Homo sapiens: one gene and its partners. The protein of the gene in region 1 interacts with the protein of each later gene in a biochemical or structural test. Each region holds a gene or a part of one and is shown in the gene's direction. Other genes may lie near its edges. The genes, in order: FKBP1B, RYR3 and TGFBR1.

Region 1 (10,923 bases):
CCTCTCCCTGGACGTCCCAGGGTGCTCCCTGGTCAGCAAGTCCAAAACAGAACTCTCGCTTCCCACCTTCTCTCCTAAGTGATCCTCTTTATCCCCCTTCCGTGTCTCACTTTCCCAAGTCCTTGTATTACTGGGTCTGGGTGTGCAAGGAATAGCCATTTCTTTATTTCTTGAAATTTAATTAATACCAAAGCCCCCATTGTCTGCAGGGTTTGATGGGCAAACTTCATATCAGATATTATTAATATGAACAGCTCCCCTCCCCAGGAAATTGGATAACTTCTTGGCTCCAGGCCATCTTCCTTGTCCAATCCCAGCCACTACTTCAGATATCCCCTGGAGTACAGGCTTCTTTGCCCACGCAGGAAACATTGCTGCTGGGTCCCAGAAAGCATCTCCCTGAGGCCTTTTCATCCCTCAGCAGCCCCTGAGCTAATCTCCCCATCTTCAGTCTCTCCTCCCTGCTTTCAATCTCGTCCCCAATCTCATATTCACTCCCTTTCTATATCATAGCCTGAAGACTCTTCTTAAAATGCAGTGGCTCACGCCTGTAATCCCAGCACTTTGGGAGGCTGAGGCGGGCGGATCACAAGGTCAGGAGTTCGAGACCAGCCTGACCAACATGTTGAAACCCCGTCTCTACTAAAAATACAAAAATTAGCTGGGCATGGTGGTACGCACCTGTAATCCCAGCTACTCGGGAGGCTGGGGCAGGAGAATCACTTGACCCTGGGAGCCAGAGGTTGCAGTGAGCTGAGATTGTGCCATTGCACTCCAGCCTGGGTGACAGAGCAAGACTCTATCTCAAAAAAAAAAAAGAAAAAAAATGCATGTTTGACTATGCCCCTCCCTCAGGCAGAAGATGTTTTAATGATTCTTCCCTCTCCCCCAGGAGGGGCCTTTGGTGCTATGGTCTATTCTCATCTTCCACACTAGAGCTTCATCTCTCACCACCTGTCCTAAGCCCACCACTAACTTTTTCCTCCAGCTTTCCCAAGCTGCCTGCAAGTTGTCAAACACACCACTCGTTCAGCAAATATTTATTGAACGTGTGTGCTAGGCCCTAAGGTGACACAGTTGAAACAGACAGGGTTCCCGCTATTGCTGGACTGAGGGCCTTTGAACATGTTACATGTTGTTCCCTCTTCCCAGATGGTGTTTTTTCACTTCCTCTGGCAAACTCTTACTTGTCTTTCAAGACCTGGCTTCACCATTCTCTCCTCTATGATGTTTTCCTTGACTTCTGTGGTCAGTTAGCTGCTCCCTCCTCCAGGATCCCATAGAGTCCTCTAAATATCGGCTCTGTGGTTAGGCTTCCTTAGGCTTTGTATCCAGCCCCGTAGCTTTAAATTCCAGCCAAATTTATACCTCCAGTGCAGACTCTTCATCTGCCTACTTGCAATATAAACTCAGATGTCTAATAGGCATCTCAAGATTGCCACCCGCACAAATCTGTTCCTCCCGTCTTCCCTATCTCAGGAAATAGTTGCACTATTCATCCAGTTGCCCAAACAGAAAACCCAAGCATCGTTCTTGTTGTCTCCTTTGTCCTCATCCTGGACCCCATTTCCAGTCTGATTGCATGACCTGTCAGCTCCGCTTCGAAAATATGTCTCCAATCTTTCACTCTCTTCTCTGCTGCCACCACCTTAAATCAAGCTATCATTGATTTCTTGTCTGGATTATTGCAACAGACGCCTAACCGTCCATCCTACACATAGCAGCCAGAGTGATGTTATAAAATCTTAATTCAGATTATGTCATTCTCTGGCTTAAAACCCTCCAGTGGTTTCCTATTGCACTTAGTATTAAATCCGGCTCTTCAAGCCCTGCATGATCCATGTCCTTCCCACCTCTCTCCTCCCTCCCTTCTTTCCAGCACCTAGCCTCCTTGCTCACTGCAAATGTGTTGATTCTGTGCACTTGTTACTCCTTTCCCAAGTGCTATTTCCCAGTATTTTGCTCATCCTTCAAGTCCCAGCTCCAGGGGGCACCTTCTCCAAGAGGCCATCCTGGACCACTCTGTCTGAAATGGCCTGTCCCACTGCATCTCCCTTTAATACATCATTGTGTGTATTTTCTTTAGAGTATTCATCATAATCCATAATCATTTTGTATATTTAAGTATTGTCTCTGTCCATTAGAATATAAACTCCAGGGCGGGTTTGGTGGCTCATGCCTATAATCTCAGCACTTTGGGAGGTTGAGGTGGGAGAATCTCTTGAGCTCAGGAGTTCAAGGCCAACCTGGACAACATGTTAAGACCCTGTCTCTACAAATTTTTTTTAAAAAAATTAGCTGGGCATGGCAGCATGCACTTGCAGTACTAGCTACTCAGAAGGCAGAGGAAGAAAGATTGCTTGAGCCCAGGAAAGGTCAAGGCTGCACAGAGCCGAGATCATGCTGTTGCACTCCAGCCTGGGTGACACACTGAGACCCCTACTCTTAAAAAAAAAAAGTAAACTCTAAAAGAACAGGGATAGAGATCTTGTTTGTAGTGTTCACTGCTGTATCCCTGTGATCAGGCACAGGCTTGGCACACCATAGGTACTCAGTAAATATTTGTGGTTTTGTTTTGTTTTGTTTTGTCTGTTTGTTTATTGTGACAGGGTCTTGCTCTGTCACCCAGGGTAGAGTGCAGTAGCATGAACACAGCTCACTGCAGCCTTGACCTCCTGGGCTCAAACAATCCTTCCACTTCAGCTTCTTCAGTAGCTGGGACTATAGGTATGCGGCACCACACCCAGCTAATTGAAAAGATTTTTTTTTTTTTTTTTTTTTTTTAGAGATGGGGTCTCCCTATGTTACCCAGGGTGATCTAGAACTCCTGAGCTCAAGTGATCCTCCCACCTCAGCCTCCCAAAGTGCTGAGATTACAGATGTGAGCCACCATGCCTGGCCTCTCAGCAAATATTTGTAAATTATTGTGTTTATTCATCTTTGATGGATGGATTATAATCTGCATTGTAATCTGGTATTTGTGTGTCTGTTTCCCTACCTTCCTCATGAGTTCATACATTGCTCTGCATGTCTGAAGTCTGGTCCAGGCCTGGCACATAGGAGGCCAACTGTAAATGTCTGTGGAATGGATGATGTGAAGTAAAAGGGGCAATCAAAGAAAGTGGGGGTGGGGTGGTGGGAAAGCCCAGGAGACAGCAGAATTGAGAAAATTGAGGGGGTAAAGTAAATCCAGGCCAGAGAGGTGACGTGATTCATTCTGGCTCGTACAGGGCCCAGAGCCAGAACTAGGGCCACAGGCATCTCCATGGCATGGAGGGGAATGCAGGCTGGAGCTCTTGGTCAGGATCATACTTAATGTCCCAGGTGTTTTTCCAATATCCTACTCCTTCATCTGCCCTCATGTCTCCCTGCAGGAAGGACATTCCCCAAGAAGGGCCAAACGTGTGTGGTGCACTACACAGGTAAGTCTCACCCCCTCAGCCCCCACCCAGTCCTTCCCCTCCCAAGGCAGGGCTGTCCTCTGAGCTTCTCTCCAGAGGTGCCTGCCTCTGGATCAGGGCTAAAGCCCAAGGCAGCAGGGTCTCCCTGTGACCAGCCATCCTCTACTCCTCCCAGCCAGTCTAGTGGGAATGATAAAGGAGGCTTGGAAGGCCAACTCTTTCCCTCTTCTACCAGCAAGGGCCATCCATGGTGCCAGCTTCTAGGTGAGTCAAACACCTTCAGTCCCCTTCCTTCTGTTGCAGGTATGGTGGAGCCCCTGTCCCTGCTGGGTCTGTCTGATATTTGGAAATCCCTCCTAGAGCTCCCCGCAGACTTTCTCTCCATCCTGCAGTATCATTAGAGAAGAAGAGGAGGGGAGAGGACAGACAAGTCACCCAGAGGCTCCGATGCCATTTGAGGGGTGGGGTGATGGCAGTGCTTTTCTCTGGGTACTGAGGGAGCCCAGAGCGGGACTGATCCCAGTTGGATGCTCTTTATCTGCAGGCGAGGTAGAGTGAGTTCTTCAGGACTGCTGGCAGGAAGATCATGAGCAGGTGTTTGTTCCAAGGGAGGTGAGCACCCTGCCTTGTGACCTGCTTCCTAAAGTGGCAAACTCGATGACAGCCACTTAGCAGACAGCAAGCCCAGGTTAATTCCTAGGACATACTCGGATGGGGCCATTTTTAGCAGTTCTGTGGGCCAGTGTGAAGCACAAGGTTAATTCTAGGCAGATGGTGTGGATGTTTTCAGCAGTTGTGTTGCTGGTCGCTGATGTCAGTGGGCTGGACCATGTTTTATCTCCTGGTGATGTGGCCTAATTACCATGGGTCGTCTGGGGCCTCTGACCTGTGTAATTGATTTAACAATTTTGCATGTTGTAGACAGACCAGTATTTATCAAGTTACTGAAACCACAACATCCTTTTGCAAAGTCCTTTCACAATACATACATAGGGCAGCAGCTCCTGTCTTGGGAGAGACTATGTCTTATCAAACATAGCGGGAGACTATGGGACTTTTGGTAAACTTTAAAGTTAAATATAAATATAGTAGAGAACATAATGTAAGATGTCTAGGTCAATGAATTTTTTCAAAGTGATCACATTTATGTGACTACCACCTAGAGAAGCATAGAACATACAAGCATAGAACCAGCATCCCCAAAAGTCCCCCTGATGCCTTCTCCCAGTCATTTCACCTCCCTAGAGGTAGCTATCATTGTTTTTCTTTTTTTTTTTTTTTTTGTCATTGTTGTTGTTGTTTTGAGACAGGGTCTCACTCTGTGACTCAGGCTGAGTGCAGTGGTGATCACAGCTCATTGCAGCCTCGACCTCTCGGGCTCAAGTGACCCTCCTGCTTCAGTGTCCTGACTAGCTGGGACCACAGACATGAGCCACCATGCCTGGCTAATTTTAATTTTTTGTAGAGATGAGGGTCTCACTATGTTGCCCGGGCTGGTCTCGAACGCCTGTATGCAAGTGATCCTTCCACCTTGGCCTCCTAGTGCTGGGATTACAGGTGTGAGCCACTGTGCCTGGCTGGCAACTATTACTCTGACTTTTGTCTCCATGGATTGGTTTTGCCTATTTTTGAACTTCATCTTAATGGAACCACAGCGTAGGTACTCTTTTGTGTTTGGCTTATTTCACTCACTATTATGTCTGCGAGATATATCCAGAATGGTTTATTCCTCTACAGTATTTTAACGTACAAGTATGTTGCAATTTATGTATCCTCTCTACCGTTGATGAACATTTGGGTTGTTCATAGTTTTTGTTTATTACAAACAGTGTCACTTTGATCAGTCTTGCAGGCATCTCTTAGTGTACATGTGTACAGACATATGTGCATGTTTCTGTTGGGTATATACCTGGAAGTGGGGTACCTCCTGGGCTCAGCGTTAGCAGTACTGTCTGACAGCTTTCCAAAGTCGTTGTGCCAGTTTCCACTCTAGGCAGCTGTGTAGGAGACTGCCAGTTACCCTGTGTCCTCCCCAACACTTGTTATTGTCAGGTTTTGGTTTTGTTTTGTTTTTTCTTTTTTTGAGACAGAGTCTATGTTGCCCAGGCTGGAGAGAAATGGCATGATCTTGGCTCACTGCAACCTCTGCCTCCTGGGTTCAAGCGATTCTCCTGCCTTAGCCTCCCGAGTAGCTGGGATTACAGGCGCCCGCCACCATGCCTGGCTAATTTTTGTGTTTCTAGTAGAGACGGTGTTTCACCATATTGGCCAGGCTGATCTCAAACTCCTGACCTCAGGTGATCTGCCTGCCTCGGCCTCTCAAAGTGCTGGGATTACAGGAATGAGCCACCACACCAGGCTTTGTTTTGGTTTTGGCCTACTCTGGTGAGCGTTCAGTACCATTTCATTGTGGGTTTTTTTGTTTTTTTTTTTTGAGACAAGGTCTCACTCTGTTGCCAAGGCTGGAGTGCAGTGGTGCGATCTTGGCTCACTGCAACCCCGCCTCCTGGGTTCAAGCGATTCTTGTGCCTCAACCTCCCAAGTAGCTGGGATTACAGGTGCGCACCACCACACCCAGCTAATTTTTGTATTTTTTGTAGAGATGGGATTTCACCATGTTGGCCAGGCTGGTCACTGTGGTTTTGATTTGTGTTTCCCTGATGATGAATGAAGTTGAGCACCTTTTCATGTGCCTACTGGCCATTTGGATATCCTCTTTAGACTGCTCTAATTTTGTCCATTTTAGAAAATTAGGTTGTCTTTTTCTTTTTCTTTTTTTGAGACAGAGTTTCACTCTTGTTGCTCAGGCTGGAGTGCAATGGCGCAATCTTCACTCCCTGCAACCTACACTTCCCGGGTTCAAGTGATTCTCCTGCCTCAGCCTCCTGAGTAGCTGGGATTACAGGTGTGTGCCACCGTGCCCGGCTAATTTTGAGGTTTTTAGTAGAGACAGGGTTTCGCCATGTTGGCCAGGCTGGTCTCAAACTCCTGACCTCAGGTGATCCACCTGCCTCGGCCTCCCAGAGTACTGGGATTACAGGTGTAAGCCATGGTGCCCGGCCGGTTGTCTTTTTCTTGTTGATTTATAGGAGTTTTGTATATGTTTTGGATATGAGTCTTTTGTTGGTTATATCTATCCCAAACATCTTCTCCCACACTATGGCTTGCCTTTTTACTCTCTTAATAGTATATTTTGAACAGAAGTTCTTTTTTTATAGTTTATATTTTCTTCTTTTCTTTCTTTTTAAAATTTTTTTCTTTCTTTTTTATTTTTGAGATAGGATCTCACTCTGTTACCCAGGCTGGAGTTCAGTGGCTCTAGTCTTCAGGGATCATGGCTCACTGCAGCCTTGACCTCCTGGGTTCAAGGACTCCTCCCATGTCAGCCTCCCAAGTAGCTGGGAGTACAGGAACATGCTACCATGCCTGGCTAATTTTTTTTTGGTTTTTTTTTGTGTGTGTGTGATGGAGTTTTGCTATCGTTGCCCAGGCTGGAGTGCAATGGCACGATTTCAGCTCACCACAACCTCTGCCTCCCAGGTTCAAGCAATTCTCCTGCCTCAGTCTTCCGAGTAGCTGGGATTTCAGGCATGCGCCACCACGCCTGGACAATTTTGTATTTTTAGTAGAGACTGGGTTTCTCCATGTTGGTCAGGCTGGTCTCGAACTCCCTACCTCAGGTGATCTGCTCGCCTCGGCCTCCCAAAGTGCTGGGATTACAGGCGTGAGCCACCGGGCCCGGCCACCTGGCTAATTTTTAGTTTTTCTGTAGAGAGGAAGGTCTCCCTATGTTGCCCAGGATGGTCTCAAACTCCTGGGCTCAAGTGATCCTCCTACCTTGGCCTCCCAAAGTGCTAGTATTACAGGTGTGAGCCACTGTACCTGGCCTGAACAGAAGTTCCTAATTTTGATGAAGTCTGACTTATCAATCTTTCCCTTTATGGTTAGTGCTTTCTGTGTTCAGTTTAAGAAATCTTTGTCTGTCAGGCCAGGTGCGGTGGCTCCTGCCTATAATCCCAGCACTTTGGGAGGCCAAGGCAGGTGGATCACCTGAGGTCAGGAGTTCGAGACCAGCCTTGCCAACATGGTGAAACCCTGTCTCTACTAAAAATACAAAAATTAGCCAGGCATGGTGGTGCATGCCTGTAATCCCAGCTACTCGGGAGGCTGAGACAGGAGAATTACTTGAACAACCCAGGAGGCGGAGGTTGCAGTGAGCTGAGATTGAGCCGCTGCACTCCAGCCTGGGTGACAGAGATGAGACTCTGTCTCAGGAAAAAAAAAAAAAAAATTGTCTCTAGGTCATGAAGATATCCTTCTATTTGTTATCTTGTAGAAGCTTTATTATTCTATCTTTCATATTTAGGTTTATGATTCATCTGGAATTGATTTTTTTGTGTGTGGATTTGGTAGGGGTTAAAGTTCATTTTTTCCCCATATGAATATACTGTTGACTCAACAACCTTAATGCAAGAAAAAAAAACCTTTATTTGCTGCATTGCAGTGGTATCTTTGTCCAATCAAATCACCATGTAAGTGGGTCTGTTTCTAGACTGCATGGTTTTGGCTTAACTTGTAGCAATAGATAAATGAAGTTATTTATCCAAAGTAGATTAAGTCACATGAAACCTGAAGAAACTAAGGAATGAGAAAGGAAAGTCGGTATATAAATGGAGTGTGTGAATGTGTGCATGTGTGTTTGCATATCTGTGTGCATATTTGTACAAGTATGTATCTGTGTGAATGTATGTAGATCTGTGTATGTAAATATTTTCTTAGCATCTATTTGGCCACCAGGGCTTTTCTCCTGAGTGTGAGTGCATAAGTGCATGTGAGCATGCACAAGTATCTTTGTGTATTTGAATATCTTAGCAACCTTAGCAAATGCATGCGATTGTATTTGATCTTGTTAGCATCCATCTGCATGTACCTCTGTGTAGCCAGAAGGGTTTTCTTCTTTGCCTCAGTTAGTACCCAGGGCAAAAGCTTAATGTATTCTACTCAGAAAGTAGTTAAATAAGACTGTTTCTCTAATATATATTTTAGTTGTAGGAATTAGGAAGTAGCATCATAGATGCTCCTACACTAAGCTGGCCCTGCTTCCTATGTTAAATATGACACATCTGAGGCCCTGGGAGAGGAAGTGATTTGCCCAGTCTCACACAATGAGTTAGAGCCAGAGTGAAGTCAAAACCCAGTCTCTGGATGTACAAGCAAGGTCTTTTTCTAGTCCCAAATGGCCTTTTGTGGTGGTCCAGGGACTGCCGGGAGCAGTCGTGGAACTGCATCATTTACAGAAGGTCTGATCTTTGAGTCAGAGTCACAGAAGAATTGAGAATAGCTGTTGGGCCTTGGGCTGCTGGACTGAGATGACATGTGGACATCAGGATGACAAGGCTTCTGAAGCAGAGGCTGGGGGAACCAGAACTGCTGGACCAGCACCTGGGGGGGGGTTCTGGTTTCAAACAGCCCTCTTAGTACAGAGTCTGGAGGCCACCTCTGACCAGCTAGGTCACCTTACACTGTTCCCTACAGTAGGGGATAATGTAACCTTTGGGTTTTCCCTTTTGGGGGAAACTTAGGAAACCTTAGGAACCTTATGCGAGGACTCAACCTGAGGCTGGAATAGCTGGGAAAACAGAACTTTAGGTGGAGGAAGTGGCATAAAAAAGTTGAAAAGTCTGGCTGGGCATGATAGCTCACACCTGTAATCCCAGCACTTTGGGAGGCTGAGGTGGGCAGATCACCTGAGGTCAGGAGTTCGAGACCAGCCTGGCCAACATAGCAAAACCCCATCTCTACTAAAAATATAAAAAAATTAGCAGGCATAGTGGCAGGTACCTGTAGTCCCAGCTACTCAGGAAGCTGAGGCAGGAGAATCCCTTGAACCCGGGAGGCGGAGGTTGCAGTGAACCGAGATCACACCACTGCACTCCAGCCTGGGCAACAGAGGGAGACTCCGACTCAAAAAAAAAAAAAAAAAAAAAAAAGTTGAAAAGTGCAGAGGAATTTGAGAAAGGTATGACCTGAAAAGGACACAGAGGGAAGGGAAGGAAGGGGAGAACAGAGAGGGTTATAAGCAGGCCAGAGCCGGATTGTGAAGTGCCTGTATGCAAGGTAGGCATTTGGATTCTGCTCTGGGGAGCTATTGAAGTATTTTGAGCAGGGGAGTAATAGAATCAGATTTGTGTTTAAAGAAAAAAAAAAATCAGTCTGGATGCCAAGTGGACAATGAAATGGAGGCGAGTAAAAGAGGATCAAAAAGACCAGTTAGGAGGTTGTTCCTGTGTACAGGTGAGATAAGCTGGTGACTTGGTCGTGGTAATAGAAACAAAGAAAAGGCCAGGCACAGTGGCTCATGCTTGTAATCCCAGCACTTTGGGAGGCCAAGGTGGGTGGATCACCTGCAGTTCAGGAGTTCAAGACCAGCCTAGCCAATATGGCAAAACCCTGTTTCTACTAAAAATACAAAAATCAGCTGAGTGTGGTGGTGGGCGCCTGTAATGCCAGCTACCTGGGAGGCTGAGGCAGAAGAATCGATTGAACCCAGGAGATGGAGGTTGCAGTGAGCCGAGATTGTGCCACTGCACTCCAGCCTGGGTGACAAATTGAGATTCTGTCTCAAATAAATAAATAAATAAATAAAAATAGAAATGAAGAAAATAGGTGGATTCCAAAGATATGGAGGACTTAGTGATAGGCAGTATGTGGGGGTGAGGCAGAAGGAAGTGTCCAGATTTCCTGCTTGGGCAACAGGATGGATGGGGAGGATCGGAAGAGGAGCAGGTGTGTGCAGAAAAGGCATTCCATTTTAGACATGTGGAATCTGAATTGGGAGTTTACTCATGACCACAGCTCTATTGCACCCGATTCTTGCTTTGACAGGAATGCTCCAAAATGGGAAGAAGTTTGATTCATCCAGAGACAGAAACAAACCTTTCAAGTTCAGAATTGGCAAACAGGAAGTCATCAAAGGTTTTGAAGAGGGTGCAGCCCAGGTAGGATGAGGATTCGCATTAAAGGGGATCTGGGGAGTTGGGGATCTGGGATCAGCACTCTGCCCTCCACCTCCACCTTCACCCACTCACAGACCACTACTGCTTTGACTCTACAGCCAGGGCATGGCAACGCCATCTGGTGTCCCCTCCTGGCTTTGCGTCCCCACCCCTCTCCTTGCCAGCATACCTCTTTTGTGTCCCTGGGGGCTCTCATCCCAAGCACATCCCCCTAGGCTTGCTCAGAACTAGCTGAGAGAGCCAGGCACGGTGGCTCACACCTGTAATCCCAGCACTTTGGGAGGCCGAATGGGGTGGATCAGTTGAGGCCAGGAGTTCAAGACTAGCCTCACCAACATGGTGTAACCCCGTCCCTGCTGAAAATACAGGCGTGGTGGTGCATGCCTGTAATCCCAGCTACTTGGGAGGCTGCGACAGGAGAATTACTTGAACCGGGGAGGTGAAGGTTGCAGTGAGCAGAGATTGTGCCACTGTACTCCAGCCCAGGCGATGGAGTGAGACTGTCT
Region 2 (10,923 bases), on another chromosome or scaffold:
GCAGACAGAGTAGCCACCTCCCATCTGAAATGTTCATTGACTAAGAACAGATGGACCAAACCCTTCCTGGGGGCGGGGAGCAGCCTGTTGGCACAGAGGCCGCCACCTTGTCTCTCCAGCACCTCCTGCAGTGCATGACCCTCTCTGCACCTCCTCCTCTTCCTGGGAGAAAGTGGAATCATCACCACTTGGCACGCTTGCTTCAGCAGCTGGGGCCCAACCAGCTATTTCCAGAAAGATGCACTCACAAAGCCAGGCTTTGAGGCAGAAAGTAAAGTATTATTCTTCTAGTACTTTTTCATGATTCTATCTCCTCCACCCCCAAATCCCCTGAGAAATGTTTTATATACATTACTGCTGTCCTTCAAAATCCATTAGCTTTTTCCCATTAACTTTAGAAATGAGTTTAACTGAAGGGTCCTCCCTGAGCTGCAGAGGACGCTAAAGCATCTCATAACTTTTAAGACTAGCTGATCTTTGGAAGTTCAAAAAAAATAATTAATTTTTTAAAATGGCATTTGCAGCAGCAGTGACTTGCCTGCTTCAGGAAAGAACCTGTGATGTTGAAGAGGAGGACACTGTGACAGCTTTAGCCCACCTTTCACCATCCTTCTGGGTGACATAGGCTGGTCAGTTGTCTTCTTTTGGCTGGGTGCTGGTACCCTACCTCCTGGAGAGCCTTCCTCCACCCTGTGCATAGAAATCCTGATGACCCTGCTCAGCGATCCCAGTCCTGACTCTTGCCCTTAAGAATGCTGCCGCAAAGGAGACAGTATCAGGACTCTGTCCAGAAACCTGAGAGGTTCACACCCAGCCAGCCCCCTTCTCATTCCAGGCGAGACAGTAACGTGTCCTGCCATGCATTTGGTCCCTGACAGTGGGATCGTTGTTATTCCACAGCTGTAGCCATTTTCATTTTTCAATTATGTCAAGAAGAACAGTCCAGCAATATTTATACACTGGCTTTCAGATTCAGAAAGGACTAGAAACCAAAATAATGAGAGAAGGAGTCTCTCAAACAATGTTTCTAGACCTCCCCATTAAATAGTGATAAACAATTTGAACACATTTTTCTGTCCACTTAATATAATCAGTGGCGAATTTGAGAAATAAAATCTACATTCAAGAGATACTCCTCAGTGATTGCCACTCCAGGCACACCAGTCTGAGACACAGGCAGCTATGAGGTTTGGATTTACAAGAGGGGTTAGCTTTCAATTCAGGCCCATTCCTGTGCCATGACCTTCACACATGATTAGAAAAAGAATGTCCATTATTGCAAGGACAAAACAGATCAGCCAGTGATGAAAGGTGCCTCAAATACAAAAGGGAAACTGTCAGTGGCATACCACGGCAGTGCTAAATCTGGGCTGGTTGCGCAATCCATGGGCATGTAAGTTCCTCATTTAGAAGGTAAGCTCCTTGAGGGCAGAGGCCCTCTCCTGTGCTCACTGCCGCCTCCCCATGCATGAAACAGTACCTGGCATCTAGTGAATGCTCACCGAGTATGTGTTGCCAGACTGACCCACGGCTGGGAAATCCCCTTGTAGGCATTTTTTTTTTATTGTTGCCTGACAAGTTACCACAAAATTTAGCAGCTTAAAACAACACACATTATTTCAGAGTTCCGCAGGCTTGACTGGGTACTCAGATTCTCACAAGGCCAAACACAAAGTGTGCCCTGGGCCTGAACCAGGCTCATCTGGAGGCTCTAAGGTGAATCCACTTCTGAGCTTATTCAAGGTATTGGCAGTTCTTTGAGATTATGGGTCTTAGGTCGTAGATTCTGAGGCCCCTGTTTCCTTGCTGGCTATCAGCCAGGGCCACTCTCAGCTCCCAGAGGGCACCCACATTCCTTTACACGTGGCCCCCTCCATTTCAAAGCCAACAAGGGCACGTCCAGTTTTTCTCTCTGATTTTCCCTTCTTCCTCCAGCAGGAAAACTCCTGCCTTTAGAAGCCTCATGCAATTTGAAAAGGCCAACAAGGTCTCCCTATCTTGAGGCCAAATGGTTAGTACAATTGCATTACATCTGCAGAATGCCTTTTGCCGTGCAACATAGCATGATCATAAGAGTAACACCAGGGGTCCCAGAGGGCCTTCTCGAATCCTGCTTACCACACCACCAATTGCCCATTTTTATCCTTATTACACCCTCATGAGCCCACACTTGTGTTTTTTTCTTGTTTTAGTGATCGAAGAGACATTTCCTTTGTTTATCATGTGAGACTATACTCTGCGTGGTGGAAAATAAACCTATCCCAGGGCATCCTAAATGCTCTCAAAGCACTTACTTTCTGCAGGGAGGGTTGAGGAGAGCCCTGGAGTTTGGGCAGTTTATGAAGTTTTCAGGAACCAGTCCTGAGGGACCTGAAAATAAAACTCCCTCTTCAAGCTATGGCTCCCTATACTGGTGTGATTCGACTGAATGCATTTCTCTCTCCCTGTTAGCAGAAACGCATGGGCTTCCTACTGGTCCAGATGAAGTTTCCTCAGCCACAGGAGCTCTGCTCCCTTCAGTTTGCAGTGACTTGAGGCCTACAAGTTGTTCTAGATGTCACATATTGGGCATTTGAGAAATCTGGGAGCCAGCCCAGGGACGACTCCTGCCTTGTAGCTAAAGTCAGAACAACATCAAATCAGAATTTCCTATTCATGTCTCATCACCATGAACTCAGGGTCTGGCACAAAGCAAGTATATAATAGGTACTACATCATTATCTGTTGAAAGTCATTTACAAAGCTTATTTCAGGCAGAGGCAGGCAGTACTAGCAGTCTACTCCAACATTTTGGTTTTACTGGCACTTATCTCTTCATATCGTCCATGGAACATCCAGTATAAATCAAATATTTTTACCTGAAATGTGAGGCCACTTTTGTGTACTAGAAGGATCATGTACTGGATGAAAGTCTGGGGTTTAACCAATCCAGCCTATTTCATCATGAACAAATGATAGCACTAAATCATGCAATCTTCTAAGTCACAGCCATAAAAATGTGTGGTTTTGTAACTCTTATGTCTAAATACATTGAGGAAGTTCATTATTTAAAGAAAACCTGTGACAATTGCTTTGACAAAAAGAAAACTCACTATACTCATTCTCTGTTGTCACATTACAAATTACAAATTTAGCGGCTTAAAATAGCATATATTTATTAGCCCATGATTTCTATGGATCAGGAGTCTGGCCACAGTGTAGCTGGGTCCTCAGTCCAGGGTCTCACAAGGATATTGTTAAGGTGTCAGCCAGGCTGCCTTCTTTTCTAGAGCTCAGTATCTTCTTCCATGCTTACGTGCTTGTTGGCAGAATTCAATTGCTTGCATTTGTAGAACTGAGGTCCTGTTTTCATGCTGGCTGCAGCCAGGGGCCACTCTCCCCGCCTTCCGCCCCCAAGAATTCCTTGTTCCGTGGCCCTCTCGTAAGCCTTCTAACAGTATAGCTGCTCACATCTCCAAGGTCATCTGGAGAAGCTTTCTCTCCAGTCCACCAAGATGAAGTTTTACATAAAATAATCTAGGAAGTGACAGGTCCTTCATCTTTGTCATTCTGTTTGCTGAAAGCAAGACACAAGTTCTAGGGGAATGATGACCCATTGGGGTCACCTTAGGGTATGTCCAGCACACCTGCCATCCCCTCATTTATAGATGGGGAGAGTTGCAAGAATTTCCTAATGTTTATATTTGCTTCAACCTAAAAGGTTTCAGTTGGTGGAATTAAAGTCCCAGTGTGTGAGCAGACTTTATGTAGTCTTCCATCATCCTCCAGTGACTTTCTTGAAAACACTTTAGTAATATGGAATTCAGAGGCTGCTCCTCCATCAAAGGGAGCAAGTAATACCTGGAGCTCCTGATGTGGTACACTGATAAATCTAATGTTTCATCTAAGTGGCAGCTGCAGCACAATCAGTAAATGCCAAACCCTTCAACAGAAGAACTGGAATGCTGAAGAGTGCAAAGGGGGTGGAGAGGATGGAGAGGAGTCCAGAGGAACCCGGGGAGAATTAGGGCTTTGAGAGGGAGACAGTGTCCTTTTGTTATTCCAGTGAGGGACCTCACAGTCTTTGCCTGTAGAGCAGTGTTTCTCAATCAGGGGTACTTTTGCCCTTCACAGAACATTTGGCAATGTTGGGAACCATGTTGGTTGTCATGACTGTGGTGGGGGCAGAGAGTGCTGCTGATGTGCAGTGGGCAGAGGGCAGGGATGCCGCTCAACATCCTACAGTGCATGGGATGGCGCCCACCGCAAAAAGCTACCTGGCCTGAAATGTCGGCAGTGCCAAGGTTGAGAAACCCTACCATGGGATCTCCATGGGCTTGCTTGACTAATGTTGGTTTGCCTGAGTCACCACCCTATCCCAGTTATCATCTCCTATGGGCAGGTGTGGAGAATGATGGTGCTGCCATGTGCCACGTGTCTTTGGGCTCTGTGAAGAGCAAGCACATCACACTGTTCAGTGACCAGCAGCAGGTATGCCTTTGGTGGGGAGTTAGCTTCACACCTACCTGTCCTGTGCACTGGAGGAAGCTACTGGCTACAGGTATCTGAGAGAAAAAATGAAAGGACCTGAGATTATTCAGCCCTGAGTGGAGACACTGTTTAAGGTGTGGAATTGTGACAATCTCCGCTGATAGATAACTGGTCTCTGCGAATTTCTGAGCAGTGGAGAATGACCAGACAGCTAGCAGTCATTGGAATGAGATTGTTGACCAAAACACCCAATGGCTGAGCCAGCTGTGTTGTTTGTCCAGCTCTGGGCAAAGCTTTCGATTTGTTTTGATTTCCAGGTGGAGCCTAATACCAAAGTGTTTCCAGCAGTCTTCCTGCAGCCTACAAGTACTTCTTTGTTTCAGTTTGAACTTGGAAAGCTGAAGGTATTTATTTGTCCTCTCATCTAATGGCCATGACAAGAGAAAGCAGCACTAACCATTAGGGGGAAAATCCCAGGCCTCAGAAGATGGGAGAAGCCTGTTCACTTCCCATAAGCCCCCCACCCCCAGGCCCTGCCCTTTCCTGTGGCATTCAGATGGTAGAATATGCATTCTTATCTTCCCCTTTTCCCACCTCTTTTGGGTGCTGAAAGAATCAATTAATGCTCATATAACCCATTATTTGAAATGCTAATTAATGCTGGTAAAGCCCTTAGAGATCCCTGGATACATTTGTCCCTCTTTAATTTATACTGGCCATATCGGTTAAAATGTCTGGGTGCGTCATCCAGCAACTGTGTGTTTCTTTTCCAATGCCTTTCCCACGTGCCCCAGAACGCAATGCCCCTGTCAGCGGCCATATTCAGGAGTGAAGAGAAGAACCCAGTCCCACAGTGTCCACCTCGGCTGGACGTCCAAACCATCCAGCCCGTGCTCTGGAGCCGCATGCCCAACAGCTTCCTGAAGGTGGAGACCGAGCGTGTGAGCGAGCGCCACGGCTGGGTGGTGCAGTGCCTGGAGCCCCTGCAGATGATGGCGCTCCACATCCCCGAGGAGAACAGGTACCAGAGGGGCCCGCGAAGGAAGGGGCAGGCCTGAGGGGCAGGTGAGGCAGAGCCAAGCCAGCCCAGAAGGAAACCAGGAGCATCTGTGTTGGATCCTGCTCAGTCCCAGTATGACTTGATTTCCCCAGTGCCTCAGTTTCTATTCCTTCCCACTTTCATTACTCAGAAACAGCAGGAAACACACTAGGAGGTGCCTGCCACAGGGCCTTTGTTGCAGCTCCTAGTGCCTGGTATTAAGGAACAGTGCCATGCCTTAAATTAAAAACTAGTTTACCTTGAAATATGCATCATTTATGACAGGAAGGGGAAGACTCTAGCTTGACTTAGAGAATCAGGAATCAGGTTCCTGGTCTCCCCTTGCTAAGAGGTGCTATTAATTATGGCTGGGGTTCAATCCCATTGCTCTCTCTTTCTGGCTTTGTGGCCTTGGGTACATTACTTATGTACTCTGAACATTGCTCTTTTCATCTACACAGTGAGAGAAATGCTCACCCAAAGGGTTTCTGGGAGGAAAATAATGAGATTGTATAAGTATAATCTGGTACAGTTTCTGTACATAGTAAGAAATAAATGTTACGGTTATTGCCATCCCTTGACCTCTTTGAATAAAAAAGCAGAGCAATGGGAAAGGGTTGAGGTATTTGACACCTGCATAGGTCCCATTTAGGTGTCCCATTGGGTCACGAGCAGCAGGGCAGGCCATGGCAGGAAAGGGGCAGAAAAGACCAGGAGCCCAGCCAAGTAAGTCAATTCTGCAGGGTCCTCAAATCCATGAGGAGTCGTGAGACTAAATGAAAAATCTAAGCAGAGATTAGAGCCGAGGCCCTGGACCCACACAAACAAGGGAGCAACATACAAACAGACCTCTAAGTCAAGAAAGAGAGAGCCAACTGGATAATGTTAATTGGTTTCAGGTTGGAAGGTGTTTCCTCTCTGGACAAGAGTGCAGAGTATGTTTGTGAAAACAAAACAAGTATGTTTGTTTTCAGGTCGTTGGAGGAACACCCCATGGATAGTGGTAGATTGGACTTTATACAAATGATACAGATCAGTGGTCCCCAGCCTTTTTGGCACCAGGGACTGGTTTCATGGAAGACAGTTTTTCCACAGACAGTGGTGGGTGAGGCTGGGGGAGGGGGTAGAGGGGATGGTTTCAGGATGAAACTGTTGCACCTCAGATCATCAGGCGTTAGATTCTTATAAGGAGCATGCAGCCTAGATCCCTCGCATGCACGGTTCACAGTAGGGTTTACACTCCTATGAAAATCTATTGCTGGTCCTGGTCCATGGCCCCGGGATTGGGAACCCCTGATGTAGACGGTAGACTGACAGAAAGCATAATCTACATTTTCTGAGGAGATTTTACATTTCTGAGGGAAATGAAACATCTGCTTGATCCTACAAGTAAGACGACCAAGTCATCACTCTCATATATGTGAATGTTTTCTGTTTGGGAATTTCGGATTTTTTCCTAATAATGAAGACTTTCATATTTGGTAAACCAGTGTCTTGCAGGCTTTTGAGAGCCTTGTAGTTAAATACAGTGGAGTACTAGGAACTGGAATACGGACCAGAGCTGAGAGAGGCATGATAAGCCATAAGAGAAACTGTGGCAGAGACCCCTCCAACCTTCCACCCACCCTGCCTTTGTTGGGCTGGATGAAATAGCTGGATTCTGGTGGGTTCTTCTCCCCCTGGTGTGGCTGATTGCTCGTCCTGTCCTCAGGTGTGTGGATATCCTGGAGCTCTGTGAGCAGGAGGACCTGATGCGGTTCCATTACCACACGCTGAGGCTCTACAGCGCGGTGTGCGCCCTGGGAAACAGCCGCGTGGCCTACGCCCTGTGCAGCCACGTGGACCTCTCCCAGCTCTTCTATGCCATTGACAACAAGTACCTCCCCGGCCTCCTTCGATCTGGTTTCTATGACCTGCTCATCAGCATCCACCTGGCCAGCGCCAAGGAGAGGAAGCTGATGATGAAGAACGAGTACATCATCCCCATTACCAGCACCACCAGGAATATCCGCCTCTTCCCGGACGAGTCCAAGAGGCATGGACTGCCTGGGGTGGGCCTGAGAACATGTCTCAAGCCCGGGTTCAGGTTCTCCACCCCTTGCTTTGTTGTGACTGGTGAGGATCACCAAAAGCAGAGCCCCGAGATTCCCTTGGAGAGTCTCAGGACGAAGGCTCTGAGTATGCTGACAGAGGCAGTGCAGTGCAGCGGGGCCCACATCCGAGACCCTGTAGGGGGGTCTGTGGAGTTCCAGTTTGTGCCTGTGCTGAAACTCATTGGAACCCTGCTGGTCATGGGCGTGTTTGATGATGATGATGTTCGGCAGATCCTCCTCCTGATTGATCCCTCTGTGTTTGGGGAGCATAGTGCGGGGACAGAGGAGGGAGCAGAAAAGGAGGAAGTGACCCAGGTGGAGGAGAAGGCTGTGGAGGCTGGGGAGAAGGCCGGCAAGGAGGCTCCTGTCAAAGGCTTGTTGCAGACTCGATTACCCGAATCCGTCAAGCTGCAGGTAAGCTGCAGGTGGTTAAGTGGAGGCAGGTTAATAGATCTTCTGCTTTGATCAAAATATCAGGAACACACTGAGGATTAAAGGAGGTAAGGTATGTCAAGTGCTTGGCATAGTGACTGACCAAGAGTGCTTGATGATTATGGTGCTTGTTGTTGAATAAGTTCTAAAAGTGATAAGATTGGTAATAACAATCCAAAACAACTCATCCCAGAAAAACAGTGCAAAAAACAATGAAAGATGGAGAGAAGGACAAACATCTCTACTTTCCATCCTCCAGGACTGGAACATTTCAGAAAGGGAGGCAGCATTCACGTGCATGATCTGGAGCTGGTTTTTCTACTCAGCTTCCTGGGAAACTATTTTCTTAGAAATATTTTCTCTCTCTCCATAGGCAGATTTCTTCTGTCTTTAGTGAGCTGTTTTCTGTTATTGCCTTCGACTTAATGGTGAAGATTTGAGTAACAGCTTTATGGCTACTGTGTGGCAATTTACTTTGTCTAAGTCTCAGTGCTACTGTCTGTAAAATGGGCATGCTAGCAGCCTCACCAAAGTACACAAAGTGTTATCTATATAATACTTTCATTGCAGATGTGTGAGCTCCTCAGCTATCTCTGCGACTGTGAGCTGCAGCACCGAGTGGAGGCCATTGTGGCATTTGGTGACATTTATGTCTCCAAGCTGCAGGCAAATCAGAAGTTCCGCTACAATGAGCTCATGCAGGCCCTGAACATGTCTGCGGCCCTGACTGCCCGGAAGACCAAGGAGTTCCGCTCACCCCCACAGGAGCAGGTGAGGGTCCTTCCTGAGCCTCTGTCCAGTTCCTATGGAAGAACTTGAGACCTATGGAACAGGGCACATGAAACCTCTATGGTCTCTGGGGCAGCCTCAAGAGCTATGGAAGATGAAAAGACCCACTGCAATACCAGGAGACAGGCCTAGTCCTGAAAGCTAAGGAATATGTGCCAATTCTCTTGGGTAGGAAAATACCCCTTTCTAAACTGCACACGTGGCAGGGCTTCCTCCCTTCTTTAACCCTCTCCAATGCCTCCATTACTGATTCAAAGACCAGACCACTGTTGGGATTCAATTGTCTCCTCAGCAAGGATACACCACTCAGAAGGATTTCTGCCAACCCTTGCAGAAGTCACTACCTGTCTATCAGTTACCAACAGAATAGGGTCAACCTGCCCCTACTTATGAGAGTTGGCACACAGTCTTCTTCTTCTAATGCGTCTAAACCCCCTTGCCGGTGGCACGACTCTCTCACAAAGCCTCCCCAGCTCCATGGAGCCTGGAGAAGGGGACTCAGTGAGTGAGTCATCTTTGTGATTTGTTGTATTCATTCTTTACAGTACCCACCTTGGGGTTAGCCTTACCCCGATGGGAAGGGCTTCTTTAAGAAGAGTCAAGATCCTAGTGAGAAATTTCTAAATGAGGGAGACACATTCTGTAGAATAGGAGTTTCCATTTTCCCCGCTGCTCAGTGGCTCACTTAGACCTTGCAGATGGGTTGACCACTGCTCCCTAAGTGTTCAAAAGAAAAGATAAATCTTTCAGCGAAGGAAGTAGTTTTTGTTTTGAAACCAGATCTTTGGATTATATTTATACACATATATATATAGATATATGTGTGTGTGTGTGTATATATATATATATATATATATATACGTATGTATACATCTGCGAGGGAGATGCAAAATGTAGGTAATCTTTGCATCTCCTCCCCAGGGTTCTTGCAAGGATCACGTGAGATAATTTGTTTGGATTGCTTAGCATGACGCCTGTCATAGAGTAAGCATACATACATGTATATAAAACAAGCAGCCTGTCCATAAAGTGTTGTCAATATAGTTACCACCATTTTATGTTAATGGCAGAACTACAACTCCATCCAATTACTTTCCTAACCTATTTTAAAACGTAGATATCTATATTGGCTTAAAAATGAATGACATATCTTGGCTTTCAAAAGACTCTCTTGAATGATACCAGCCTGGCTAATGAGTGGGTAAAGCTTATCATCCCTTTGCAAAATGAGAAAGCCCTTTGGATTGACTGGAACAGATCATTTGCACCACACAAAATGCACAAGTGTGCTATTTTTCCAAGAATTACTCCTGAAGGCTTTACAAATGTTGTCAGGCTGCTTTTAGACTGGCAATAGATCTGCATATTCCCTATTTCACTGGGCGTATTCTGGCTCTTTCATATGTATTTGTGAATAACAGAAGATACAATGACATGGTGATGGTAACACATGTTGGCCTTGGGCTGTGGGTTCCCAAACTGGCTCCCCCATTGCTCGCTGTGTGGTCTTCCACATGACCTTTCTGTATCTGTTTCTTTAGCTGCAAAATGTGGATAATTTTTGCATCTCCCTCCCAGGGTTCCTGCAAGGATCCCATTTAGATTGCTTTGTGTGATGCCTATCACAGAGTAAGCATTCTGTAAGTACTAAGCGAGCTACTATTACTTTTATTGTTGGAGATATTTGCAATTGCTTCATGACAGGCTCTGTGACCTTCTATCAGTGACCCGATGAGTGGAGTTCACACATGTTTTCTGGCATCTCTTTCTCCCAGCCAAGACTGGGGTTGCCCACCCAACACTGTCCTCGTGGATATAGCTGCTCATGGTTCCACATCTTGGGAAGGACAAGGTTTACTCACACACTTCCTTTCCCCATTCTGCCTCCATACCTTCTGCTGTCTCTTGGGCTACCATTTAGATCCACTGCCAGTCTAAAAGCAGCTTGACAACATTTGTAAAGCCTTCAAGAGTAGTTCCTGACAAAACAGCATACCTGTGCATTTGGCACAGTGCAAATAATCTTTTCCAGTCAATCCAAAAGACTTTCTCATTTTACATCTAGCAAAGGGATGATGAGTATGTACCATCCTTTAGTAT
Region 3 (10,923 bases), on another chromosome or scaffold:
AAGCTTAGGGATTCCTGAAACAGTTGTGCAAGGAAGACAATGAGAGTTTGGACTTAGATGAAGCAGTCTTAGTACTGAAGGTGTGATAGTCTTTAGGCAGGCCTGGTGGACAGAGGTTATTTTAGAGCTTTCCTGGGACTTCCCATTTATTCTCAGTTCAGATCTTCAAAAAGATTTTGCTCATTCTGGAAGTCATCCTGCTCAAAACTGTGATAATCAAGGACCAGAGTCACAGAAAATCAGGATGGCTACAGATATTTGGAATTAATCCCTCAAACCTGTTCTCTTGTTTCTAAACTTATACTCCGGAAAGACACAGCACTCATGCCACTTGCCACAGTGGAATAAGCCCACCTAACTGATTAAAGGAATTGGTGGGTGGGTGGCAGTTGATTACTGGATAAGAATATCTTCATTAACCTTTTAAGATATAAACATGAGAAACAATGGAATAATTCTGTTTCCATTATATATATATATATATATATATATATATATATATATATATATATATATATTTCTAGATCCATGAGGGACCATAGCTCTCTGTTCTCTGAAAGCTTCTCTCCCTCCTTTGATGCCTTACCCTGCAAAAACTTGTCTGCATTGCTTGCTAGCTCTGTGGCTTTGGGCAGTTAACCAATGTCTCATGCTTGAGTTATTTCATCTTTAAAATGAAAGTGATGGATTCTGTGCACATCATTGGATTGTTGTGAGTTCAAGCAAGACAAAATGTTTGCATGAAAGCACTTGGTAAATTGTAGAGTTATGTCCAAATGACAAGTGTTACTCTTATTGAAAACATACTTGGAGGAAAAATCTAACATACAGTATCAGTTGACCACATTGTACAAAACTTAGTTTAAGGCCTCCTTTGCCTGTCATAGTTCATTGTGTACTGAATTCCCTCCAAACCTATCCAGGCAGAAGCCATCTTCTGGTGAATAATAGCAGAAAATGCCATCTGTTTCCCTTCTATTCATTATAAATCCTTAATGCCACCTTAGGCATGAGACTAGTGCCTGTGAATAAGTAAACTGTGTGTTTGTAATACTCTGTTTTTAGTTCTTTCATTAATTGAGGAAAAGGTATAAGCATTTCACATTCTGAATTCATATGTTTATTACTTAGTACCGTGACCATAATTAAGGAAAGGCCCTGTCTCTACCTCTAAAGACTGTGCTTTTAACTTGGGAACTTCAGGGAATACAATGAAGAGCTGGGTTCTGGCAGCTGTACGCCAAGTGTGTGAGTGTGCACATGTGCATATGTGCCAGCTTTTGTAAGTGAGTCTTCTAGGCCAGTGTTTGTTATGGCGTGTGCAGCTTATGAGCTCTTGTAATATATGCATGTTGTTCGGGTCTTATTTCCTGTTCACTGCATGTAAAGCTGTGGAGTCCCTGTTTCCCTTTTGAAGTTTTCTCTCAAACAGTTCTAAAGGTACAGAAGAGTAGAGCAGAGAATATAGAGATCTAAATTAGGCCTATTCAGTTTTGTCTTTAGAAGAAAATTGTTACTTTTTTTTTTTTTTTTTTTGGAGACGGAGTTTCACTCTGTTGCCCAGGCTGGAGTGCAGTGGTGGGATCTCAGCTCTCTGCAGCCTTCACCTCCCGGGTTCAAGCAATTCTCCTGCCTCAGCCTCCTGAGTAGCTGGGATTACAGGTGTGCACCACCATGCCCAGCTAATTTTTGTATATTTATTAGAGACCAGGTTTCACCATGTTGGCCAGGCTGATCTTGAACTCCTGATCTCTAGTGATCCAACCACGTCGGCCTCCTAAAGTGCTGGGATTAGAGGTGTGAGTCACTGTGCCTGGCCAATTGTTAACTTTTTAAAAATGCTCAACTATTCATGTGAAGTAATCCAATATAGATAATACAGTGGATCAAGATTTGCTTTTTAATTTTAATTGACATCTAGAATCCAGTGATAAAGGGGAAGACAAAACCTTTCCTCGTCCTGTTGGCCTTTCTTGACCATACCATTTACACAAGTCCTGAACCTGTCAGGTGTTTTCAGAATTTGTGTTTGTGATTCCTTTTTCTTTTTTATTACTTGTCTTTGCAATTTCCAGATTAGTCTCCTGAAATTAACTCTTAAGTGTACTTTTAAGTCTGTGGTGTGGCCCTCTACAAGGCTTTCATAAAATGTAATAAATTAGTATCTACACTAAACAACATAATTAGAATTGATTATACATAGTGCGAAAGAGCTCTATGATTTAAATAAGGATTTCTGACAGATCTGTTTCTAACTAGCAGCCTCCTTATAAACACAAACAGTTATTTATAGTTATACTGCTAACTACTTTACAGGAGGTGGGGAGGGTAGAGCAAGAGGAAGAAAGGACCCGTTTGAGAAACTTAAGAAGAAGAGCTTCTGATCGCTTTAAAGATTTAACGTTTGGATTTATAAGCATTTCACATCAGGGAACCAAAGAGAGCAGATAATTTCATTTACTGTCATTGGGTTAATTTGATCTAGTAAGCAGCTTTGAGTATAGATTATAAATGACACCAATTTATATGTACATAGATTGTATAAATAAGATATGAGTGAGGAACATGATGTACACTGGCATTTTCTTTGTTAGTGTCAATGTAATTTAAAATGACACTTACCGGATGGTGGATAGGATATTAAGTGATGGTCTCACATATAGTGCCACTTAAATGTTGCAGGTAAGTTAGTAAACCCTTTTAAATGAAGTAAGTATGGCAATACTTAAAAATACATATTTTGGAGAAAGCCAAGTTCCATTAGTGGAAAAACAGTGCTCCATTACCAAGGTAAGTTACTTAGCCTTGTTCTTCAAGATACTAGTGTTGTCTATGTAGCCAGTTGTCAGCAAGTAAATTGCTTTCCTTGAAATAGTTTCTGTGGTGATTTTTACTGACTTATCAAAAAGCCAGAATTTACTTCTGTGTTTCTGCGTTCACATCCTTTTTTCCTCCCATCAGTGAAACTGTTACGAGATTCATCTTTCTAAAATAAGATTTTAAAATTATCTTGCTTCCAGCCATGGCCCTTTTTCTCAGAAATCTTTAAAGGTTCCTCTTTTACCTAAAGCTCTTCATTGGTTATTTTGAGCTTGGTATTCAGTACTCTTCATCTTCTGGTGACAGCTTACTTTCTCTTTTCACTGCTTTGCCACATATATCCTCTCTCTGATTGCCCAAGCTGCTTCCCTAAAAATGTGTCATTCATTTCCCTCTACCTTTGCCTGCACATTCTTCCTGCCTAACCACCGTACTTAAGGGATAGTCAAAATTCAACTTACTTTTACAAAGCCTACCTTGACCCTCTAGCAGGAGTTTCTGGATTCTTTTATTATATTTATTATCTTATTTTCCTTTTTTAATTAGTTATTTTATTGCAAATATAATATCTCCCCAGTGAGATAAATTCCTAAAGGGATAGCTTAAAGTATCAGTTTTCTGGGTCACTCATTAGTGCCTATCATGATGTTTGAAACATGTAATATTGTTGATTGTGTTGAGTACTATTTATTTTTACCTTTAGGTTTACCATTGCTTGTTCAGAGAACAATTGCGAGAACTATTGTGTTACAAGAAAGCATTGGCAAAGGTCGATTTGGAGAAGTTTGGAGAGGAAAGTGGCGGGGAGAAGAAGTTGCTGTTAAGATATTCTCCTCTAGAGAAGAACGTTCGTGGTTCCGTGAGGCAGAGATTTATCAAACTGTAATGTTACGTCATGAAAACATCCTGGGATTTATAGCAGCAGACAATAAAGGTCTGTAACATTTGCTTTTCCTTATGTTATATATAACAAGATCTCTTTAAGTCTTTACAGATATGGTGACTAACCATCATCAAAGTAGATGAGACATAGATGTCTCTCATGTAGATTAGACCCATTAAGTCGAATACAATATATTAGTAACTTTTAGAACTAGGAACTTCTTCAAGATTTTCTTGACTCTTGATAGCATTCCTAAAATCTCTTAATGTTTTATAAAATATAAAAGAGCTATTTTAAAAAGCCATGTACTTTGTTGGTTTAGTTTAGGGCAGTTAGTTATTGAGAGTACTCATGATATAGAAAAGATATATAAACTTGCTCAAAATTTTGAGAATAGGGCTCAGATAGCTGTTTCCTTTTAATCTCTTCCTGACCAGTAGGATGTTTCAATATGGACTATTGACCTTATTAATGGGGAGAGTAAAAATAACTTGTCAGTGTTCTGAGTTGCCAAGGGCTAAATAGATGAATCTTCTGGCAAACTCAAAGAGATAAATTGTTTCTTCAACCACCCTGGTAACTGTACGGACACTTTTCTGCCTATCATGCTGGTGCCTGAGGCCCAGTGTCAGGTCAGATGCTGAAGAAGGAAGGAAGCCTGTCAGCAGGGAGTCAGAATGAGTGGGGACTGCAAGCAGTGACCTTAGACTGTGCTGCTGCCACTTTCTTAGCTTCCGTTAATACCTTTATGCCCATGATTCCTACTTTTTTTTTTTTTGAGATGGAATCTCGCTCTGTAGCCAGGCTGGAGTACAGTGGTGCAATCTCGGCTCACTGCAGCTTCTGCCTCCTGGGTTCAAGTGGTTCTCCTGCCTCAGCTTCTCGAGTAGCTGGGACTACAGGCGTGCACCACCATGCCCAGCTAATGTTTGTATTTTTAGTAGAGATGGGGTTTCACCATGTTGGCCAGGTTGGCCTCCATCTCTTGACCTCGTGATCCACCCACCTCACCCTCCCAAAGTGCTGGGATTACAGGCATGAGCCACTGTGCCCAGCCCCCACGATTCCTATTTTTACTGCCTCTGTCAGAGACTTGTGTTTCAGCTCCACTCTTGTCATCCCTACCCCTGAATCAAATGTATTTCCCAGCTTTCCTATTTAAAAAAAAAAAAAAATGCTGTCATTATCTCTTAGCTTGGCCAGACCTGTAGTCATCTTTTTCCTTCTCCCACCTTCCATTTACTTCAGCAATATTTATTTATTCAAATATTAACAGTGTTTAACCTCAGTTGGTAATTATGGGTGATTTTTATTATTTTTCTTTTAGCTTCTCTGGGTTTTCAAATTTATTTACAAGCATGTACTGCTTTTTTTTGTTATTGACTTTTATTTGTAGAAAATTTCCAATATGTAGAAAAGCAGAGTAGTTACAGTGATCCCTCATCGTCCAGCTTCAACAGTTGTCAGGTCACTGCCAATCATAATTGATGTCTGATCCCACCTACTCTGCCCTAACTGTGTTATTTGAAGCTGGTCCCAGACAATATGTTTTCATCTGTAAACACTTATAAAATGTAATTTGTATCTTCAAATGATGAGGAAATGTTTTTATGAAACAACCACACTACCATTGTCAGTTTTTTAAATGTTATCAAATATCCAGTTAGGTTCAATTCTATAATTGTCTCCTATTAAAAAAATTATTTATTCAAATTATGATTCTAAGTCCACAAGTTATATTTAGTTGATATTTCTCTTATGTGTCTTAAAATTTAGGTCCCCCCTTCATCTTTTTTCTCCTCTCGCAGCTTATTTGTTGAAGAAATTGGATTGTTTATCCTGAAGGGCCTATCACATTCTGGATTTTGCTGATTGCATTTCCATAGTGTCTCTTAACTTGTTCTTCTATCTTTTCTGAAAACTGGTAGTTAGATTTAGAAGCTAAACCTAATTGGAGTTTTATTGGTTTTCTCAAAATACATACTAAGGATATTATATACATCCTATTGCATCATATGTGGAGGTGTATAGTGTTTGATTAAGACGGGGCAGTGAGGTATATGATGAATGTAGGTAGCGATTATCAGTGGCACCTGACAATGTAATACCTCTTAAGTTAAAAACAAAACAGGCCGGGCACAGTGGCTCACGCCTGTAATCCCAGCACTTTGGGAAGCCAAGGTGGGTGGATCACGAGGTCAAGAGTTCAAGACCAGCCTGGCTGGCCAAGATGATGAAACCCCATCTCTACTAAAAATACAAAAAAATTAGCCAGGCATGATGGCAGGTGCCTATAATCCCAGCTACTTGGGAAGCTAAGGCAGAGAATTGCTTGAACCTGGGAGGTGGAGGTTGCAGTCAGAGCTGAGATCGCACCACTGCACTCCAGCCTGGGCGACACAGGGAGACTCTGTCTCAAAAAAAAAACAACAACAAAACAAAACAAAACAAAAAATAGTAATCAGTCTGACCAAATCCTTAGTTCTCATTTTCGTTTCTGCCTTTATCACCATTTATTTCCTCCCCCAACTCTTAAAACAACCTTTTCTTTATTTACTGTGTTTGATGACCCTAGACTTTCCTTGTTCCTTCTTACTTCTTCATAGTTGTCTTTGTTTTCTCAACTCTTACTCTTCTCACTGGTTCATATGAAGGTACTGATTTTATAAGTGGTAATTTCTTCCTTAAGAACATAGCCACATTCATGGTTTCAAACTCTACCATGTTGGCAACTCTCAAATCTCCATTTGAAAGCTTAAACCTCACCCAGGGTCTGGATTTTGTCACATTCCAAGTTACAAACACAGCAGCACAAAATGTTGGTGAGTCTGTGCCCTGAACTTCTAACCAGGCTGATGCTGTCATCTGGTGGTCACCATGGGAACTAGCTGACCCTACTGGCTCTTCCCTACTCCCCTTCTTTCTTCTTTGTCAGGGGTTAATGTACTTTCTCTGAGCCTAGCCCCTCCACCTCAGTTCCTTTATCTTCTCCTGATTTAGTTAATTCCACCCCCGGCAGCCCTTTATATTTATGGCCCCTTACATATAACCTTCCTTCTATCTTGTCCATAACCTGTGGTTTCCCTTTCTTCCATCTGCCTGTCTTCCACTTTGTTTCTTGTATTTGTGAGCTTTTCAAAATTCAGTAATGGTTAAGAGGCATGCAAATAAGCTAGTGATGTGCCTATATCAAGGAAAAGCAAGGGTGCGAGTTTGGTCAGAATCAGTTTATAAAGTTCATGAAGAACAAATTAATACTAAGTCCTTTTAAATGTACCCAGAAATCTCCTCCAGAATCTTCTGAAAAGTTTCTATTCCTTTCTTAATCTCTTCTAATCAGAGTTGGTTTTCTTCTTCAACCAAATACCTTCAAAATAGAAGCTGTTTCATGTCAATATGGATTTTTTCTTTTGGTTTACAACCAGCAGGGAAAGAAAGAGCACAGTTTATGTACTTCTTACCTAAAGAATCTAGCATTCCGTTTTTTAAATCTTAACAGTCTTACAAAGTAAGACTTTATTCTTGTATAAAAGGAGAAACAGGCTCCTTGTCAGTAACAGGCAGGCCGTGGATTCCAACCAGGTTAGAATGACTCTAAGCGTCCATCTTTTACTGGATTGTGCTGTCTCCTAATGTTGTAATGCTTTTTTTCTTCATGGCTTAATTAAGCATGTGGTTTTCCAGCTACTTCTAGGTTAAATTAGATTGTCGTGGACCAGTCTAGCTTAGGAGCCTAGCTAGTGTCTTTACCATTATTCCTATGAGAAAACATGTTTTAAACTCGTGTTTTGGCTTACAGAGGAAATTTTGGAACCCACGTTCCTCGTTGTTTGAGTTTAGTCCCAGCTTTTCCAGTTTTGCTCCTGACATTTCAGTTCCTATTTCAGCTTCCCCATGTGTTAGAGGTATCACTATTTCTGTTTTTCTAAGCTAGCAACCTTGGAATCATAATCATCTTGTCTTGCGTCTTTGTGAACTGTGTACACAATCTGTCACTAAAGCTTGTCATTTCTTGTTGAAACTCACTTTCAGTTTTGTCCCATACTCTTCCATTCCCACTGTGGCCACACTGGTCTCCGGAGACTTCTCACCTCCTTGCTTCCCTCTCTGTTCCTTCCTTTTTTTTAACCTTCTCTCCTTCCAGGAACAGCCACTGAGCACCCAACCCGACCCAGAGATTTTTCTAGGCACTTAAGAGTGCCAGCTCTGATACCAATTATCTGTGAAGACTCAAAAAAGTCACCATCTTTGTCTCTTAAATGGGATTAATTATACTTGCCTTATCTCAAGAAGAGGGGCTTACTCTGAGGAACTAAAGGATGTGTACATAAAAGTATAAAACAAACAATGTAGAAGAAAATGTGAAGGAAATACAGACTTAAGGTGGCATTATATTGCAGTGTGTGACTCAGGATTGAGAGTAAAAAGTAATAACCATTGAACAAATAAATCATAAATGGTCTGCAGCCCAACCGAAATGTTAATTCTGTTTTACAGACAATGGTACTTGGACTCAGCTCTGGTTGGTGTCAGATTATCATGAGCATGGATCCCTTTTTGATTACTTAAACAGATACACAGTTACTGTGGAAGGAATGATAAAACTTGCTCTGTCCACGGCGAGCGGTCTTGCCCATCTTCACATGGAGATTGTTGGTACCCAAGGTAATTCTATAAGCAGTTCTATTATTTAAGCTTTAAATTTTCATGAATAATGTCTATGAAAATAGAAGGTGGAGGCTGGGCCTGGTGGCTCATGCCTATAATCCCAGCACTTTGGGAGGCTGAGGTGGGCAGATCGCCCGATCTCAGGAGTTCATGGCCAGCCTGGGCAACATGACAAAACCGCATCTCTACCAACATACAAAAAATTAGTCGGGCATGGTGGCATGCACCTGTAGTCCCAGCTACTCAGGGGGCTGAGGTAGGAGGATTACCTGAGCCTGGGAGGTCGAAGCTGCAGTGAGCAGACATCATGCCACTGCACTCCCAGCTGAGTAATAGAGAGAGACCCTGTCTCAGAAAAAAAAACAAAAACAAAAACAGTAGGTGGCCTAACTGGAGATATTTAAAACAAATTTTTTAGATGAGAACATTTTATCTTTCAGTTCAAAATTTCAGGTAGAGCTAGGAATCTGGAAATTTGTTTAGAGATTCTCTAGTCGTTGTAACAAAACTGTGATTTTTTTTGAGTTCTTAAAAGTAGCATTCAATCTTATGATTTTTGAGGATCTCAGTTTCAGAATTCAGGTCCAACTGAATATATTTTTATGTGTAGTATCAAATGAAATGTGAAAGTGCTTTGTAAACATCAACATGCTAGGTAACTGTTATCTGGCCATCTAATAATTATATTTGACCTTGAGATAAGGAGACTGCATGAGATAGTTTTACAGTTGAAAAATTAAATACTAAGTTTTAGTTATGACATTTGTATGCTGTAGTTTTTGTGCATGTGGGATTTCAGATGCCAGTATATCTCTCTGCTCTAGCAGTTGTCCACTTGCAACCCAATGGCTCCCCCACTCCCCACTTTACATACAGCATAAGTGCTAGTTCACATCTTAGCTCCATCTTTGTAGTTATTATTATTATTGATTGTAACAGTTTTATTGAGTTATAATTCACATCATAAAGTTCACCCACTTAAAGTGTAAAATTCAGTGGTTTTTAGAATACTCAGAGTTGTACAGCCAGCAAACACTACAGTCAATTTTAGAATATCTTCACTCCAAAGAGAAACCCTGTAGCCACTAGCAGTCACTCCCCTTTCCTCCCAAACTCCTTAGCCCTAGGCAACAACTGCTCCTTTTTGTCTGTAGATTTGCTTATTCTGCACATTTTATATAAATGAATCATACAATATGTGGTCTTTTGTGACTGGCTTCTTTCACTTAGCATGTTTTCAAGGTTCATTTATGTTGTAGCACGTATGAGTACTTCAGTCATTTTGATGGCTAAGTAATACTTCAGTGTATGGATATGGCATATGTCATATATCCGTTCGTTGATGGACATTTGGTTTGTTTCTTTTGGCCATTGTAGCTAATGCTGCAGTGAACATTTGTGTACAAGTTGTATGTAGTTTCATGTTTTCAGTTATCTTGGGTATATACCTAGGAGTTGAATTACTGTATCATATGATAACTCTATTTAATGGTTTGAAGAACTGCCATACTATTTTCTTAAAGTGCCTGAACCATTTTACATTCCTGCCAGCAGTGTATGAAGGTTCCAGGTTTTCCACATTATAATTATTATTTTTTAATAACATTTTCTAGTGGTTAGCATCAAAGATAATATACTTAATACTGAGTACATTGCAGTTGATAGGGAAGTGATGTTCTACATGCTTGGTTCCTGGGCTGCTGGAATATCAGTCTATGGCTAAGTTTCTTAAAAAGAATTCATAAGGCACCAACAGATAAACTGATAACTTTTTTTTTGCCCCAGTCTTTGAGTTGTTCATCTTTTAAAGCATGTTATTGTCCACATTTTCTTTAAAGAAATATAAATTCAGTGACTTTTGGTGTAGTGATTCACTTGAGTTTAATAATGCCGTAAGTATTGTAGGTCATGTGGGCTGAAATGCTTTGATAATTTGGGTTGGGAGAAGAGACTTTTGAACCTAAAGATGTGAGTTGTGATTGGTATTACCTTTTAAGCAGTCATGTTTAATTTTTGATTCTTTAGGAAAGCCAGCCATTGCTCATAGAGATTTGAAATCAAAGAATATCTTGGTAAAGAAGAATGGAACTTGCTGTATTGCAGACTTAGGACTGGCAGTAAGACATGATTCAGCCACAGATACCATTGATATTGCTCCAAACCACAGAGTGGGAACAAAAAGGTATACTTTTGAACAACTATATTTAATATCTTCTGAAATCACCTTTTTTCCCTTCTCTTTCATATATACATATCATTGCTGAAACTCAGCTTAAACTTGCACTTTATTAGATTGCCAACAGGTAAGAAGATCTCATGGTCTTGCCTGCTCTGAAGCCAGAGTTACCTGACTTAAAAAGATGCCTGCTGATGAAAGGTTGCCCTTCCAGAAAATATCATTAGGCATGTTAATTATAATAACAGTAGTAACTAACGTTTATAGGGCACCTACTATGTGCCAATCGTCTAATAGGTCTTTTACGTATATTACCTCATTTAATCCCTTCTCAAATACTGTGCAGTAGCTAGCCCTGCTATTTTCATATTTCAGT

The links.
Region 2: the proteins of FKBP1B (region 1) and RYR3 form a complex in vitro, tested with the Homo sapiens proteins (one study listed by BioGRID).
Region 3: the proteins of FKBP1B (region 1) and TGFBR1 form a complex in vitro, tested with the Homo sapiens proteins (one study listed by BioGRID).

What each region holds. Positions count from the first base shown.
Region 1 is NC_000002.12:24,050,528-24,061,450, forward strand, and holds part of FKBP1B (peptidyl-prolyl cis-trans isomerase FKBP1B), read left to right. Parts: intron 1-3,374; coding exon 3,375-3,422; intron 3,423-3,576; exon of another isoform or gene 3,577-3,665; intron 3,666-3,945; exon of another isoform or gene 3,946-4,089; intron 4,090-10,286; coding exon 10,287-10,399; intron 10,400-10,923. UniProt on the Homo sapiens protein: Has the potential to contribute to the immunosuppressive and toxic effects of FK506 and rapamycin. PPIases accelerate the folding of proteins. It catalyzes the cis-trans isomerization of proline imidic peptide bonds in oligopeptides.
Region 2 is NC_000015.10:33,654,933-33,665,855, forward strand, and holds part of RYR3 (ryanodine receptor 3), read left to right. Parts: intron 1-4,787; coding exon 4,788-4,874; intron 4,875-5,264; coding exon 5,265-5,491; intron 5,492-7,220; coding exon 7,221-8,016; intron 8,017-8,604; coding exon 8,605-8,805; intron 8,806-10,923. UniProt on the Homo sapiens protein: Cytosolic calcium-activated calcium channel that mediates the release of Ca(2+) from the sarcoplasmic reticulum into the cytoplasm in muscle and thereby plays a role in triggering muscle contraction. May regulate Ca(2+) release by other calcium channels.
Region 3 is NC_000009.12:99,134,336-99,145,258, forward strand, and holds part of TGFBR1 (TGF-beta receptor type-1 isoform 1 precursor), read left to right. Parts: intron 1-3,523; coding exon 3,524-3,754; intron 3,755-8,200; coding exon 8,201-8,368; intron 8,369-10,396; coding exon 10,397-10,553; intron 10,554-10,923. UniProt on the Homo sapiens protein: Transmembrane serine/threonine kinase forming with the TGF-beta type II serine/threonine kinase receptor, TGFBR2, the non-promiscuous receptor for the TGF-beta cytokines TGFB1, TGFB2 and TGFB3.